2 linked regions of the Homo sapiens genome follow. The protein of the gene in region 1 interacts with the protein of each later gene in a pairwise test. Each region holds a gene or a part of one and is shown on either strand. Other genes may lie near its edges.

The links. Proteins that work in one complex are often made in the same cells at the same time.
Region 2: the proteins of DDX19B (region 1) and CTIF interact in binary tests that used the Homo sapiens proteins (3 or more experiments, as listed by UniProt).

The regions. Positions count from the first base shown.
Region 1 is NC_000016.10:70,329,860-70,335,805, reverse strand, and holds the end of DDX19B (ATP-dependent RNA helicase DDX19B), read right to left. Parts: coding exon 5,738-5,946; intron 4,085-5,737; coding exon 3,922-4,084; intron 2,839-3,921; coding exon 2,647-2,838; intron 2,286-2,646; coding exon 2,224-2,285; 3' UTR 501-2,223; downstream 1-500. UniProt on the Homo sapiens protein: ATP-dependent RNA helicase involved in mRNA export from the nucleus.
Region 2 is NC_000018.10:48,534,197-48,542,262, reverse strand, and holds the start of CTIF (CBP80/20-dependent translation initiation factor), read right to left. Parts: upstream 3,233-8,066; 5' UTR 2,951-3,232; intron 2,576-2,950; exon of another isoform or gene 2,432-2,575; intron 2,261-2,431; exon of another isoform or gene 1,926-2,260; intron 1-1,925. UniProt on the Homo sapiens protein: Specifically required for the pioneer round of mRNA translation mediated by the cap-binding complex (CBC), that takes place during or right after mRNA export via the nuclear pore complex (NPC).

The DNA.
Region 1 (5,946 bases):
CTCCATGAAACCCATCCAGTGAATTCTTAGAGGTCCAAGACCCCTGATTAATAACTGTTGGCTGGGCGCGGTGGCTCACGCCTGTAATCCTGGCACTTTGGGAGGCCAAGGTGGGTGGATCACTTGAGGTCAGGAGTTCAAGACCAGCCTGGCCAACATGGTGAAACCCCCATCTCTACTAAAAATACAAAAATTAGCTGGGTGCGGTGGCGTGCACCTGTAGTCCTAGGAGGCCGAGGCAGGAGAATCGCTTGAACCTGGGAGGCAGAGGTTACAGTGAGCCGAGGTCGTGCCACGGCACTCCAGCCTGGGCAACAGAGTGAGACTCCGTTTCCAAAAAAAAAAAAAAAGAACTGTTGACCTATACTTCTACCAGATTCCCATTCCTCCTGCTGTCAAAGAGTCTGCAGCACCCCGCTTCCCACTTTCCTTCTCACACTTGGGGCTACACCAGTAGAGAGGTTGTATGTGCTTGAGAAGGTGGGAGTCTGCTCTGCCTGTGGCCTACTAAAGAGTCTATACTTCTTTAATTATTGCCCTTGTTTTTAGTATTTCAGGGTTGGTCCACAGGACTCAGGGAAGGAGAAAAAAGTATAAAAATTTCTTTTCTTATTACAAGAATTCCAAGATGTGTCAGAGTTGACCAGAAGCATAGAGAAAACTACATAGTCGAGTACCCACCAGGGGAATGTGGTAGAATTGGCAGTCTGTTGGTCTCTTTGTAATGTCAGATTAAAGAAATCACCTGGAGGCTGACATTGGCCCCTTCCCTTCCCAGGAGGCAGATCTGGCCTAAATACGGAGATGCGTACAAAGAAGACCTAGGATCACAATCGTTCTTAGCCATCAAACTCTTCTTCCAGGTCCTAGAGAAAGTGGCCACTCTATACCAAAGCCAAAGAACTGCAGAGTACTCCTCTTGGTTGGGGTTTCATATTGCTCTTGCAATTCAGTTTCCTCTCATCTTTGCTGTCATTTCGTGGGTACCAACAGCCTTGGCCAGGTGTGAGAAGTGTCCATTACTATTGTTTGCTCTGACTATCTTGCGCAAAGATGCCAAGTAAGGCTGGAGCAAAGGCCTTGGTGATACTCTTGCCTTGGACAGATAAATGGTGGTAGTGTAGCTAGTCCCTCAGTTGCACCTGTTTGTATTCCAAAGGCAGTAAACACAGATGTTCAGAAGCCCTTTATAATCAAGATGTCAAATATCTGAAATTATTCCCCAGCTCTGACAAAACTTGCCTTCTGGGTGTGGAGACAAAACAAGAATTTGTGACTACTGCTGATCACATCTAGAACTGCCTTGAGGCTGGCCATGAAGACTTGAAACCACAATTTTCACTGAGGATCTAAACCTCAGATCACATTTGTTTGGGGCTACTGTGGGGTAAGGGGATATTAAGGATGTAAAAGGGATGTTGCAAATGCTCATGAGACCAGGTTTTGTGGCACGCTAGGGCCACCACTAATTCTCCATGATGACTTCTCCACAGGACTTGCTTAAGCACAGGCACAGGACCCACCAATAATCAGATGTGCACTCTACACAGACTGCACCCACCGAGAACAGGTCACAGTCCTGTGACACAAACCCATATACACAACCGAGAGGTTGGCATTTTGGTCCATGCTTATTTAACAAATTCCCTTCTGCTGTGGGCACTAGGACAGGGGGCTGGCAATACTCAGATGAGCTGTCCCACCCCCAAGTCCAAAGCAGCAGCTCTCAGGCCTCCTCTGCTGCCTCATGCCATTCCAAACATGATGGCTGGGCTTACACACCTATCTTACTGGAAGCCTCCCTCTCTGTGTTCCCTTTCCACCACTATTCCATTACTTCCACAGGAGCTGGAGGCTGCCCCATCCACTCCAAGCCAGAGAACAAGCAGAGGCTGCCACAGGAGATCCTGGGCAAGTAATCAGCCACAGCATCTAGATTAGCATGAAGGAAACACTGGCCAAATTAAAAGATGAAACTTCCAAAAGGTAAATCTCTGTGTATTCATGCCTAATCTTCCAAGGTTGTGTAAATAATTTTTTTCTACCATCCCCCATCATTTGCATACATTTTTGTCAAGTCCAAACATAATTTGAAGTGAGGTAGGTAGTTTCTCTCTACTTGTGCCGTTGTCCTTGGGGTGATGTCGGGGCCTGTGCCCTGAACGCACTTGTCTCCTGTGCAGGGGCAGTGCCAGGGCTGGCATCAGTGGCTGGTGGAGCTTCTCAGTTGGCTATTTTCTCAATCTCGTCCAAATCATCTGTGTCCAATCTTTCTATCTTCTTATCTGGGGGAAAGATACACAGGTCTCTACCCTGCCCAGGAATGTGCCCCATCTTGGGCCACAGCAATCATTCATTCAGCCCCAAAGGCTCCGGGTGCCTAAGCAGGGGGCAGCAGGGCCCCTAGTCACTGACAGCAACAGTCAGAGCCCCACGCCCCGAAGCCCAGTCACAGGGGAGCTGTTCTTGGAGTCCCTGGGTCCTGAAGTCTCCAGGTGTGCTCCCTGAGAACTGCCATATGGTCAGAAAGGAGGGGAGTGTGCTAGGGACAGAGCCTCTCTTGGGGCTACAGAAGATCCTACCCCTTTCACCACCCCGCCCTACTTAGCAAAGGGCGCCAGGCACAGGACCCTCCCCGGGACTCACTAAAATGCTCCTGGATTCTGTTCAGGATGTTCATGCTGTGCTTGCTGTCCACCATGTTCACTGCCAGGCCCCTCTTGCCAAAGCGGCCCGTGCGCCCGATCCGGTGCAGGTAGGTCTCATTGTCAGGATTCCCGTCCTTGTCCACGGGAAGATCAAAGTTGATGACGACAGACACTTGTTCAACATCAATGCCTGCAGGAAGGAGAGTTGGAGGCTGAGAGGACTAAGGACAGGAGGCAAATCAGTCATGTGGTCCATCCATACAATGGAGCATGACTCAGCATTAAGGGAACACGGCACTAAGAGACGTGCATGACATTGAGTGCAGGAAGCCAGATCTGAAAGGCCGTGCAGTATGAGATTCAGATGATGCCCCAAAGCAAAGCTACAGGCATAGATACCAAACTAGCACGGGTCAGGGGGTGGGGTGCAGGGAGAGGTGATGAATGAGTCCCTGAGAGTTGGAGACAGAGAGAAGTAAGGACAGGAGACAAAAATCACTGTTGTCCACAGGTAAGTCAATGCATACCAACTTCGGGTAAAGGGAAAGAATTTGGGGGGCCGAGTGCGGTGGCTCATACCGGTAATCCCAGCACTTTGGGAGGCCGAGGCAGGCAGATCATCTGAGGTCAAGAGTTCAAGACTAGCCTGGCCAACACTGCAAAACCCTATCTGTACTGAAAATACAAAAATTAGCTGGGCTTGGTGGCAGGCGCCTGTAATCCCAGCTACTCGGGAGGCTGAGGCGGGAGAATCACTTAAACCTGAGAGGCGGAGGTTACAGTGAGCTGAGATTGTGCCACTGCACTCCAGCCTGGGCCATTGAGCAAGACTCTGTCTCAAAAAAATAAATAAATACATTTGGGACAGGCCAACTCTGGGAATTGGGTACAAGAGAGGGCACATACAGGCATACAGCAGAACCTGGAGGAAAAGAACAAAACTTTGGCAGGTGCCAACAAAATTATGAAATCAGTCAGTAAGCCTCTGGGAGACACAATGTTCTGGAGATGGGCATCCCTGGAAGAGCAGGCTCTGTTCTCTACCAGTCAGATGCCTGTACATTTCCTTCCACCAAGTCAGGACTCCTGGCTTCTGTGGGAGTTCTTATCACCTGAGGGAAATCCAAACAGTCTCTCCTAGAAAGGAATAGTGTCACCAACCCCACCCATCTCCCTGAGACCATCCGACTTCCCTGTGTACAAGGATTTCTGGCTCTAACTGGGCCTGGGACCCCAAGCCTGGCAGACCAGGTGGGACACGTCCTCTGCTCACCGCGGGCACACACGTTGGTGGTCACCAAAACCTTCTCTTTGCCCTCTCGGAAGCGCTCAATCACTGCAGCCCTCTGTTCCACCATCATCTCCCCACTCAGCAGAGCCACCTGGTGGCCTTCTTTTGAGAGCTCTGCTGCCAGCCAACTAGCTGTTTTGCGAGTCTGTAGTGAAAAGAATTGTTTTTTATGAAGAGACCTGTTAAAAACAAAAGGAAGACAACTGCTAAAAAGTGGCTTGCCACGATTAAAATACATGAAGGCCCTGCTAAATCCAGTTAGGAGGTTAGGCTTAAAATTTCTCAATGAAGCATGGTAGTACACACCTGTAGTCCAAGCTACACACTTGAGCCCAAGTGTTCGAGGCTGGCCTGCACAACATGGCAAGAACCCATCTCAAAAAAAAATTTTTCTTTCAAATAGAATTTTAGTCATATGATTTTTTTCTTTTTAGATAAGTTATGTAACTGCTGTTACTTTTGTATCTAGGAAGAGTGTGGCTTTAGCCAAAGATCTTCATTCCTAAATAGTCTATGTTCTTGCCAGATATGGTGGCTCGTGCCTGTAGTCTTAGGCTTTGGGAGGCTGAGGCTGGAAGATTGCTTGAGGCCAGGAGTTTGAGACCAGCCTGGACAACATAGCAAGACCCCACCTCTACAAAAATAAAAATAAAAATTAGGCTGACATGCATGGGGCACATACCTGTAGCCCTAGTAACAAGAGCCAAGGCTGCAGTGAGCTATGACCATGCCACTGTATTCTGGCCTGAATGATAGAGCAAGACCTTATCTCAAAAACAAACAAACAACATATATATTTTAAAATTTTATTTTAAATTTAAATTTTTTGAGACAGGATCTCATTCTCTTGCCCACTCTGGAGTGCACAGTCACAGCTCACTGCAGTCTCAACCTCCTGGGCTCAATCAATCCTCCCATCTGAGCCTCCCAAGCAGCTGGGACCACAGGCATGCACCACCACGCCTGGCTAATTTTTAAAATTTTTGTAGAGATGGGGTCTTGCTATGTTGTGCAAGCTGGTCTTGAACTCCTGGGCTCAAGAAGATCCCCCCACCTCAGCCTCTCAAAAGGCTGGGATTACAGGCGTGAGCCACTGTGCCCAGCCATATATATATTTTTAATGATGAGGTCTCACTATGTTGCCCATGCTGGTCTGAACTCCTGGGCTCAAGCGATCCTCCAACCTCAGCCTCTTGAGTAGCTGGGACTACAGGTACTTGCCCAGCTTATACTCTTTTTTTGTTGTTGGTTTTTTGTTTGTTTGTTTGTTTTTGTATTGAGACAGAGTTTCGCTCTTGTTACCCAGGCTGGAGTGCAATGGAGCAATCACAGCTCACTGCAACCTCCACCTCCCGGGTTCAAGCGATTCTCCTGCTTCAGCCTCCTGAGTAGCTGGGATTACAGGTGCACACCACCACGCACGGCTAATTTTTTGTATTTTTAGTAGAGATGGGGTTTCACCATGTTGGCCAGGCTGGTCTTGGTCTCCTGACCTCAGGTGATCCACCCGCCTTGGCCTCCCAAAGTGCAGGGATTACAGGCATGAGCCACCGTGCCAGCCGCCCAGCTTATATTCTTAAAAATCTAAAAATTATTTCATTGGCTGTTACTTGGGGTTTTCTCCAAGTAATCACTAAGAAGTGGAATCAAAGTCTCCCTCTTACGACTCACTAAAACCTTAGGAGAACAAACCACTTCGTTTCTTCCCATGGCACCCAGGGGCATCCAGTCCTCCTGAGCCCTGTGGGGAGCTGGCTGAGAGGGAAGGGCCAGGCCTGCCACTGCCACTGCTACTCACATGGCAGAAGATCATGGCTTGAGCAATGGTGATGGCCCCGTAGAGGTTACACAAGGCCTGGAACTTCTCGTCTCTGCTGCTGCACAGGACATAGTACTGCTTGATGGTGTCCAGGGTCTCTTCCTCACGCTTCAGTTTGATAACGTTTGGGTCTGGGACCACTTTCTGGGCAAACTTCCACACAGAGTCTTCAAAGGTGGCGGAGAAAA
Region 2 (8,066 bases), on another chromosome or scaffold:
ATGCACATATGATTCTGGTAGAAACTGGATGTATCACAGCTGCTATCCATTCACCAACAGCAAATTATTAAATGCGTGGTAATAACAGCAATGCAGACTTCCGTTCTTTAGTGGCTGCTCTCATTAGGAATGGTTAACAAATCAAGAGTGTTTTGAGAAAGAATATGTGTCAGCATAATATACTCTATTTTTTAGCTTCAGTATTTCCTGAGGTGTCAAGAATCCATACTCAGAAAAAAAGTGGCCACTATTAATTAAATGCCATAAGCTGAGAAAAGGGGGAATGTGGCCCTTCCCCCACCCAGAGGCCTTATGCAAGCCACATTTTTGAGCCTCAGTGTGTTCATCCGTAAAATGGGGCTAATACTCTCCTACCTCACAGGACCCTCTTAATAAATGCTATGATATCTGGCGGGGGAGGGGGGAGGTTCTGGGGGAAGAAAACCTGCCCTGTAAGGTCATACAAACATATTATTATTCTAGCAAGCTGTTAATCACTGATGACACTGTGCCCTAGAATGTGTTACAAAATTGCTGCCTCTGAGCATCCATTATCCAGGACAGATACTTGACACAGATGAGGTGATCTGTGTGTAAATCGAATCCTGTGTCAAACACTCAGGAGTTTCCCCAGACAACCTGAGCGTGTCCTGGCCATCCTCTAGCGTCTGTTCGGTGCATTCTGTTCACGTATAATTGGGTTTTCTTGAAAGCCAGGCCATCTCCTCGCGCAGCCCGAGCCTGCTAGGAGCCTGGATTCCTGAGGTTTTCAGCCCAGATCGGGCCCTGGGCAGGAGGAACTGGGAACGGACAGCCGGCGGCCCCTCCCTGCGCTCTGGGCGGCTCCTTCCTCTCGGCCCTGGCTCCAGCAGCGGCGGCGCTCTCTCGCGCTGTGTCACTTTCGCCCTACGGAGGCTCTAGCCGCGGCCGAGCCGGCGGCTCCAGCGGCTTCCTCCTTGGTCGCGCGGGCCCCTGGACTGGGGGATAATCCTCGGGCCGCAGAGACACAGCGCCGGGCGGGCGGCGGCCTGGGCCGGGCTGGGGCGCGCTGGGCTTGGGCTCCCACTGTCCCCAGACTGAAGAGCCGGGGCTGCGGTTGGCAGTCGCTGACTCTCTCCCCGGTCTGCGAAGGCAGCGGCGGCGAGCGCGGGCACGCACACCCATAGAACGCCTCGGTGCGGGGTCACCCCAGCGTGGACTGGGGGCGGCGCAGCCAAACCAACCCCCCGCGCCGCCGGGTGGACCCCCAGTCTGCCGGGTCACGGGGCGTCGCGGACGCGGAGGGAGGGGCTGTGTGACTCCGGCCGCACAGCGGACCTGGGACTCCTGCACCGAAGACCAGCACACGCGACCCTACGGTCTTCCCCGGCCCACAGCCGCACGGTCCCCTCTCCAAGTAACTCGGGCGCGCGCGCGCGGGGACACACGACCCCGACTTAGACAAGGAGGGGGCTGGCGGGACAGGTCGCGCGGAGGATCGGGGCCCACGCTTGTCCCCACTACGCCGCGGTCTGCGGTCCCCGCCCCCCACACACACCGGAGCCGTGTGTACACACAAACAGCCGGGCGGGGGAGGCGACGCCTCACTCCTCGGGGTGGAGACGCACGCGGCGCCGCCAGTCAGCCCTCCCCTCTACACGCCGCACACCCCGCGGTGCTCACACCCCCCAGCCCCAACCCTGAAAACTCCGCGGAACCAAACAGAGCCAACGCCGCCCAGATAACGGGCTCGGACCACCCCCCTCCCGATTGTCTTTTACCATCAATAGAGAAACACTCGGCTCAGGCGCGCGGTGTCCCGGACGCCCCCTCCGGCCACATCCAGGCACCGGCACGCGGCCCTCCGAGGCCCCAGACCTTCGCCGCAGCCCAAGCCATCGCCCCCCCGCCCGCCCTCCCCCATGACCGGCGCCCGGGACAGTTACCTGCTCGTCGTCCTGATGAACCCGAGCCGGAGCCCACCCCACGGCCTCTCGGGTCACTCGCCACCCAGAGGTGGCTTTTCAGAGCCTGTCAAGTGAACCCCTCTCCGCCGGGCGTATCTATTCCCCAGGCCCGATTGCACCGCAGCGACAGGAATAATAAAAAAAGCCAACAGAACCACAACCGTTGGGAATAACCAAAGGGGAGACCGCAACGGGTCCACCGATTTGGTTTCTTCCTCTGCTCCCATCCCCCGCTCCCCCCGCGGCCCGCGGGCTCACCGGGGACGCAGGGAGGGGGCTGCGCCCTGTCTAGACGACAGCCATCCACAGACATCCCCGAGCCCGCGGGGACGGGCGCGCACACTCACACACGCCCGCTGCCACAGACACAATCAGTCACCGGGGAAGGGAGGGGCGGCGTGGCGACACACTCTCGGGGTCCCTCCCGCAGCCCCGAGTGCCGCAGCCCCCGGCCCCCAAACGCCACCCCGAGACGGGCTCCCTACCTCGGCGGAGCGCGGTCTGAACAGCTGCAAGTTTGGCTGATACTAAACCAACTGCTCGATGCAGCAAATGCGGGCTTCAAAACAAAAGGGAGAGGAATCGCGCTCGCTCTTTTCCTCCTCCCAGGTCGGAACCCGGCACATGACAGCGGCTACACCGCGCAGCTCCAAAGCGAGCCGGGCTCCAGCCGTGCGTCCCCCAAGAGCCCCCCTTGGCGCCGGAGCTCCAGGGCCACGACACCCCGCGGGGCGGGGAACCCGGCAGGGAATGGGACAAACCCAGGGAGGGGGCGACACTGTGGAGTGCAGTTCCCCACCGAGGGGGAGGAGGGGATGGTAGATGGGTGCGGACACCCCGCTGGCCCAGGAGCAGGGATGGGGGGAAGGGGGCTGATTGTTTGGGGCGGTTTTCCCGGATTTATCTATAAGCACGCCCACGTCACGCAGCCCTCCTCCCGGGTCCCCGAATCGATCAGCAAGCTGAGATGACTATAAGAGGAGGACGGGCGAGGAGATGCTCACCTCGGGGTTCCTCTGGCCGCCGCGCCAAGCCCGAGTCGGGGGTGGGGGAAGGGGGCAGGGAAGGGGAAGGGAGGGACGAGGCTCCGGAGAGCCGACTCCTGCCTCGAGTTCGGAGCGTCCCAGCTGCGGAGGGGATCGGGCGCCCCAGCGCACAGACCCAGCAGAGAGGGGAGGGAGGGAGGGAAGGGAAACAGGGAGGGAGGGGCGGGTAGGGGGGAGGGAGTAGAGGAAGGAAAAAAAATGATCCCTGATCTGACACAGGGAAAGAGAATGTAGGAGAGTGACGTTCAGGCCCCGCCCTCCCCTCCGGCCACGTGCAAAGACTTGAAAGGAAAGAGGGCGGCTGGAGGCCTGCTGGGTAATGTAGTTCGCCTTTCTTTTCCAGGATGGCGGGCCCTGGAGAGCAGGGTGGCCCCAGGACGCTCGGGATGTCGCCTTAGCTGCCAAGACAGCCCAGTCTAGCGACGCCAAAACCCGCCGCCCAGCGACCCCACGGCGCTGGCGCAGCCCTGGGTGGGGGCCTCTGCGGTGGGAGAACTGGGGGCTTAGGCGCAGTCCAGGCTTACAGGGAAACGTTGGTTTTAGAGTCCGAAAGGCTTTAAGGATGAGAACGTCCGTGCCGAAAGTGCAAAGTCTGTGCTAATGGCAGATGAAAAGGAGCTTTGTGTATGCACTGGGGGGCCCAAGTGGCGTGATTAATGCTGCACTAAATGCCACCGTCGGTTATTGAGATGCATATGTTATAATTAACATTTGAGCATCTCTGTGTCGGGGGCTGGCTGTTGTAATTAGATACGCACTTTGCAACCAATTAATTTTCCTTCGGCCAAGCTAAGGGCTGGGACGGGGTGGTTGGGAGAATTCAACGTAGTGGATAATTCAGTAATGACTTAACCAGATCACCAATGTTTTGGTTAAAACTGAGCTTGGCACAGAGAGGCCTTCAGGAGAAATACTGAATAAAATACTGTATGCCCCAACAGGGAAGGGGGCTAGAAATTCATTAGAGGAACTGTGTGATGCAGTATAAACTGCTGTAGAAACCCATTTATTCATTAGTTTATATTCACATTTAGTGAGCACTTTCCACAGACCAGGTGTGTCTAGGAATGCCAAAACAGGTAAGACTCACAGTCTCTGCGCTCAAGGAGCTCAGTCCAGTATTAGGGACTACAGTCAATGAAAGTATTATACAAGGGATAAGTCAGCGCTTAACACAAAGTGCTGTGAAATTCCCCCCACCACACAACCTGGAGCAGCCAACTGGATGGAGGGTGGGTGGGGTCTGGGAGAGGGTCAGGAAGACTTCCTGGAGGAAGTGATACTTGAGCAAAGAATTTCTAAGTTTTTTTTTCTTTTTTTTTTTTTTTGGAGACTGAGTCTCTCTTTGTTGCCCTGGCTGGAGTGCAGTGGCGTGATCTTGGCTCACTGCAAGCTCTGCCTCCCTGGTTCATGCCATTCTCCTGCCTCAGCCTCCCAAGTAGCTGGGACTTCAGGCGCCCGCCACCACACCTGGCCAATTTTTTTTTTTTTTTTTTTTTTTTTGTATTTTTAGTAGAGATGGGGTTTCACTGTGTTAGCCAGGATGGTCTCCATCTCCTGACCTCGTGATCCACCACCTGAGCTTCCTAAAGTGCTGTAATTACAGGCTTGAGCCACCGTGCCCGGCAAGAATTTCTAAGATTTTTAACAAAGAGAGAGGAAAGGATAAGCACCTGATTAAGGTTAAAGGGTACAAAGGCTTCAGATGAGAGAAGAGAGCTAATTCGAAAGGTCCCAGGCCTACAATCCCAGCAGTTTTGGAGCCTGAGGAGCTCAAGACCAGCCTGGGCAACATAGCATGATTCCTTCTCTACAAAAAATTTAAAAAATTAGCCATGGAGAGTGGCATGGGCCTTGAAGGATGGGTGGGATTTTGTTTTGTGTGGAGAACTTGTCTCCCGGGCTTGAGACACAGAACAGCATAGACATTCACATCCTATAGAACAACTCATTTGATTCTTGTACCAAAGGCCATGGTGGCTGTCATTCCCTCCCTTCAGGAGGGAGGCAACAGGCCCAGAGAGTTAAGCAACTCATGCCCAGCCATGATTCGGTACAGAGTGGGTACTAGAGGCCAGTTGTCTGGGTGGCAGGCAACCGTCGTCCACTCCAAAGCAACAGGTTTAAGCACACCTGACTCTTCCCGTTGGTTTGTCCCTCTTAGCATTTATGCCTCATTGGCTCAGCAGTGAGTTATTTGTATGCTTTAACATCTGGACAATTTCCTGGGTTTACAAAATATTATATAATAATACTGGAATATACACATTCAGCAAATTCCCATTTACTTACCCTGTTGTCATTGTTGGTTTTTACATATTGTGTGACAGGCATGCCACCTGCAAAGGAAATAAGAATAAAATTGTCTGGGTTTTGGCTTTGCTTTTGCTTAAATCGCACCCTCAGGTGAGGAGAGGCTAGAGGTTGAGCAACATGTGGAACGTGAAGCTTCCACGGAGAGCACACACCTCCGTTTGGGGTATGCACCTAGGGTGAGGGGGCAGTGGGAACCACAGGCTCTGGTGTCAGTGTGACCCCTGGGTTTGAATCCCAGGCATGATACGTCCTGGCTCTGTGACCTTGGGCAGCTTACTTAACATTCATAAGGGATGACCTTGGGCCACTTACTCAACAACTTTTCTTGGCCTTGTGAGAACCAGTGGTGATCGTGGGTTTATGCTGACTGTGTCACATGGAAAGTGCTCAAAGATGGCTGATGCCCTTTCTTGTCCTGAGTCTTTCTGGCCCTCAAAAATGATCCCTGAATTTTTCTTTCTGCAGACTCACACCAGCAGAGCTAGTAGTGCAGGAAGGATTCCTGAGGGTGACACATCTTAATATGTGAAATCAGTTAGGTTTGTCTTCAAGGAACCTGGACCCAATTCTAACCTTCCCCTGCTCCTGGCCTAGCTCTCTTAACCCACATCAGCTAAAGTTCTTCATGCTCCTCTGCTCCCTACCCTGCTGCCCCACCTAATGCTGCCTCCTCTGGGCAGTGCCTGGGGCTTTGCATTGCTGCTGCCTGCCCACCCAAACTTCCCTCCTGTTTTCCACATCCTCAGTGCCTGGCTCTGGGCTCTACCTCCAGTCTAATAAACTGTCATTAACATATAAGATATTCTTCTGATTCTCTCCTCTAACTCTGACACTTTTGTCTTCTTATTGAGCGCTCTCTTCAGTGGCCTCTGATGATGGGCATTTCAGGCTGGAATGGGGATCTTTGAGGGGAAGGCCTTGTAGATGCCTCAGACCAGAGTTCCCCCAGGTGGGAGGCCTGGGGCTTATGTGGCCCGTTGTCTGTTGTTCCTTCTCTGCTCTGGGATTGATTTCATGCCCAACCTGCAGGCTTGGGTCGGAAGAGCTAATGGGTGCAGAGTGAAGGAACTGGAGATTCCTGAAGCAAATGATGCTAGCATTGGTTTAATTGTGACCGATTTTGAGTGGCCAGGAGTTTCCCTGTCTGCCTAGAAATGAAAAGTCAGAATGTTTCTGTTTGTTTTAAGGAGTTGCTTCTCCTCATTCACACTTGCCTAAGATAATAGCAAAAAGTACTAGTTCTCCTTTCTTGCCATGACTTCTCTCCACTCACCCCCGTAGCCATAGCTGTTCCAGGGAAAAGTTACTGGTCAGTCCACACATTGACTGAAGGCCTGGTGGGAGCCTAGGTAGGTGCTGGGGGAGAGAAGCTACCTACCTTCAGGAGCTGAGACCAGGCTGATGCCCAGCAGATAACAGGAAAATGAATGAAGCGCTCCACTGTGTGAGAGTGATGTCAAATGAACTAAGAGTTCCCAGTCGGCTACAAGGATCAGAGAAGGCTTCTGGGAGGAAGGTGGGGCTACATCCACTTGTTACTTCCCACTGGGAGAAGGTCAGCAGTGGCCAAAATTCCTGTTATGCGGTGTTGGCCCAGGAGGCATTGCAGAACTAGTGACTTACTGTGGGAGCTAGAGAGTGGCTTCATCATGCAGTTTGGAGGCCACTGACAGTGCAGAAGGAAGGAAGTTGGTAGTCTAGTGTCTACGCTCTGTTACCGTGGTGTTGGCCTGGAGAGATAACAGCTTGATAGAACCAGGTGAAATTTCACCCATGCCTCATCTCACCTTCCACTACACAACCCCAAAGACCAACACCTGAAAGGCACATGCAAAGTGATCCCCTAAGATTGAAGTCGGTGGTAGAGAAGGGATGTGAATAGAGAACAATGAGCTTGAGAAAAGCAAAAGCAGAATATGAAATAAAGCAATTGAATATTTGTTGGGACAATGCTGTGCCTAAGACATGGCAAGGTACTCTGGGGAACACAGTGTGTGAAACGGGATCCCGGGTCCCACCTGCCCCTCTCCTGCTGTGTGACGTTTCCTGTCTCTGGGCCTCAGTTTCCACACCTGTAAAATGAGAAGGTTGGCCTCAATGATCTCTAAGATCTTCACCACACCTGAAATTCTCCCTTCAAGAATGTTATAATCTCACTGGCAAAAGAAGCAAGAAAATTAAGTAGCCAAAAGGATGAATTTTAAGCTGTTTAATTCCAGCAGAGCAGGAAAGGTTTGTAATATTTGTTAAACAAAGCCCTGAAGTCCATGAGGGAATATAAAATAAGCAGATTTCCTTTTGCAAGATTTAAGGACATGGACTGATTCAATGTCAGCCTGTGAGTCATCAGACATTCCTCAAGTCTCCCAGAGTTCAAGGTCAGACCTCCTAAGTCGGTGGCGTGAGCACCACAGCCTTGTTCATGGTGAAGGCCTGGACAAAGATACACCCCACATCTCTGCAAGAGACAAGTTTCCTTGTTTGCCAGTCTACACTCTAAAAAAAATGGGAGGGGAAGGCAGTGCTGATCACACCACAGGTATACACCCGATCTATGGGATCTTGGGCTAGGCTGGACTTGAGTGGATGTGGCTCCATCAGAGGAACTGAGCCAATCAGAATTCCTCTTGTAAGAATCTGAAGTAAGAGGCTGAGAAACCTCTCTCTGCTCATTGGTGATGGCTGCTCAGGTCAAGGCTTGTGTTTTAGGTGGGTCGAGTGCAAGATAAGTAAGCAGAAGAAGTGAGTGGAGGGGGGA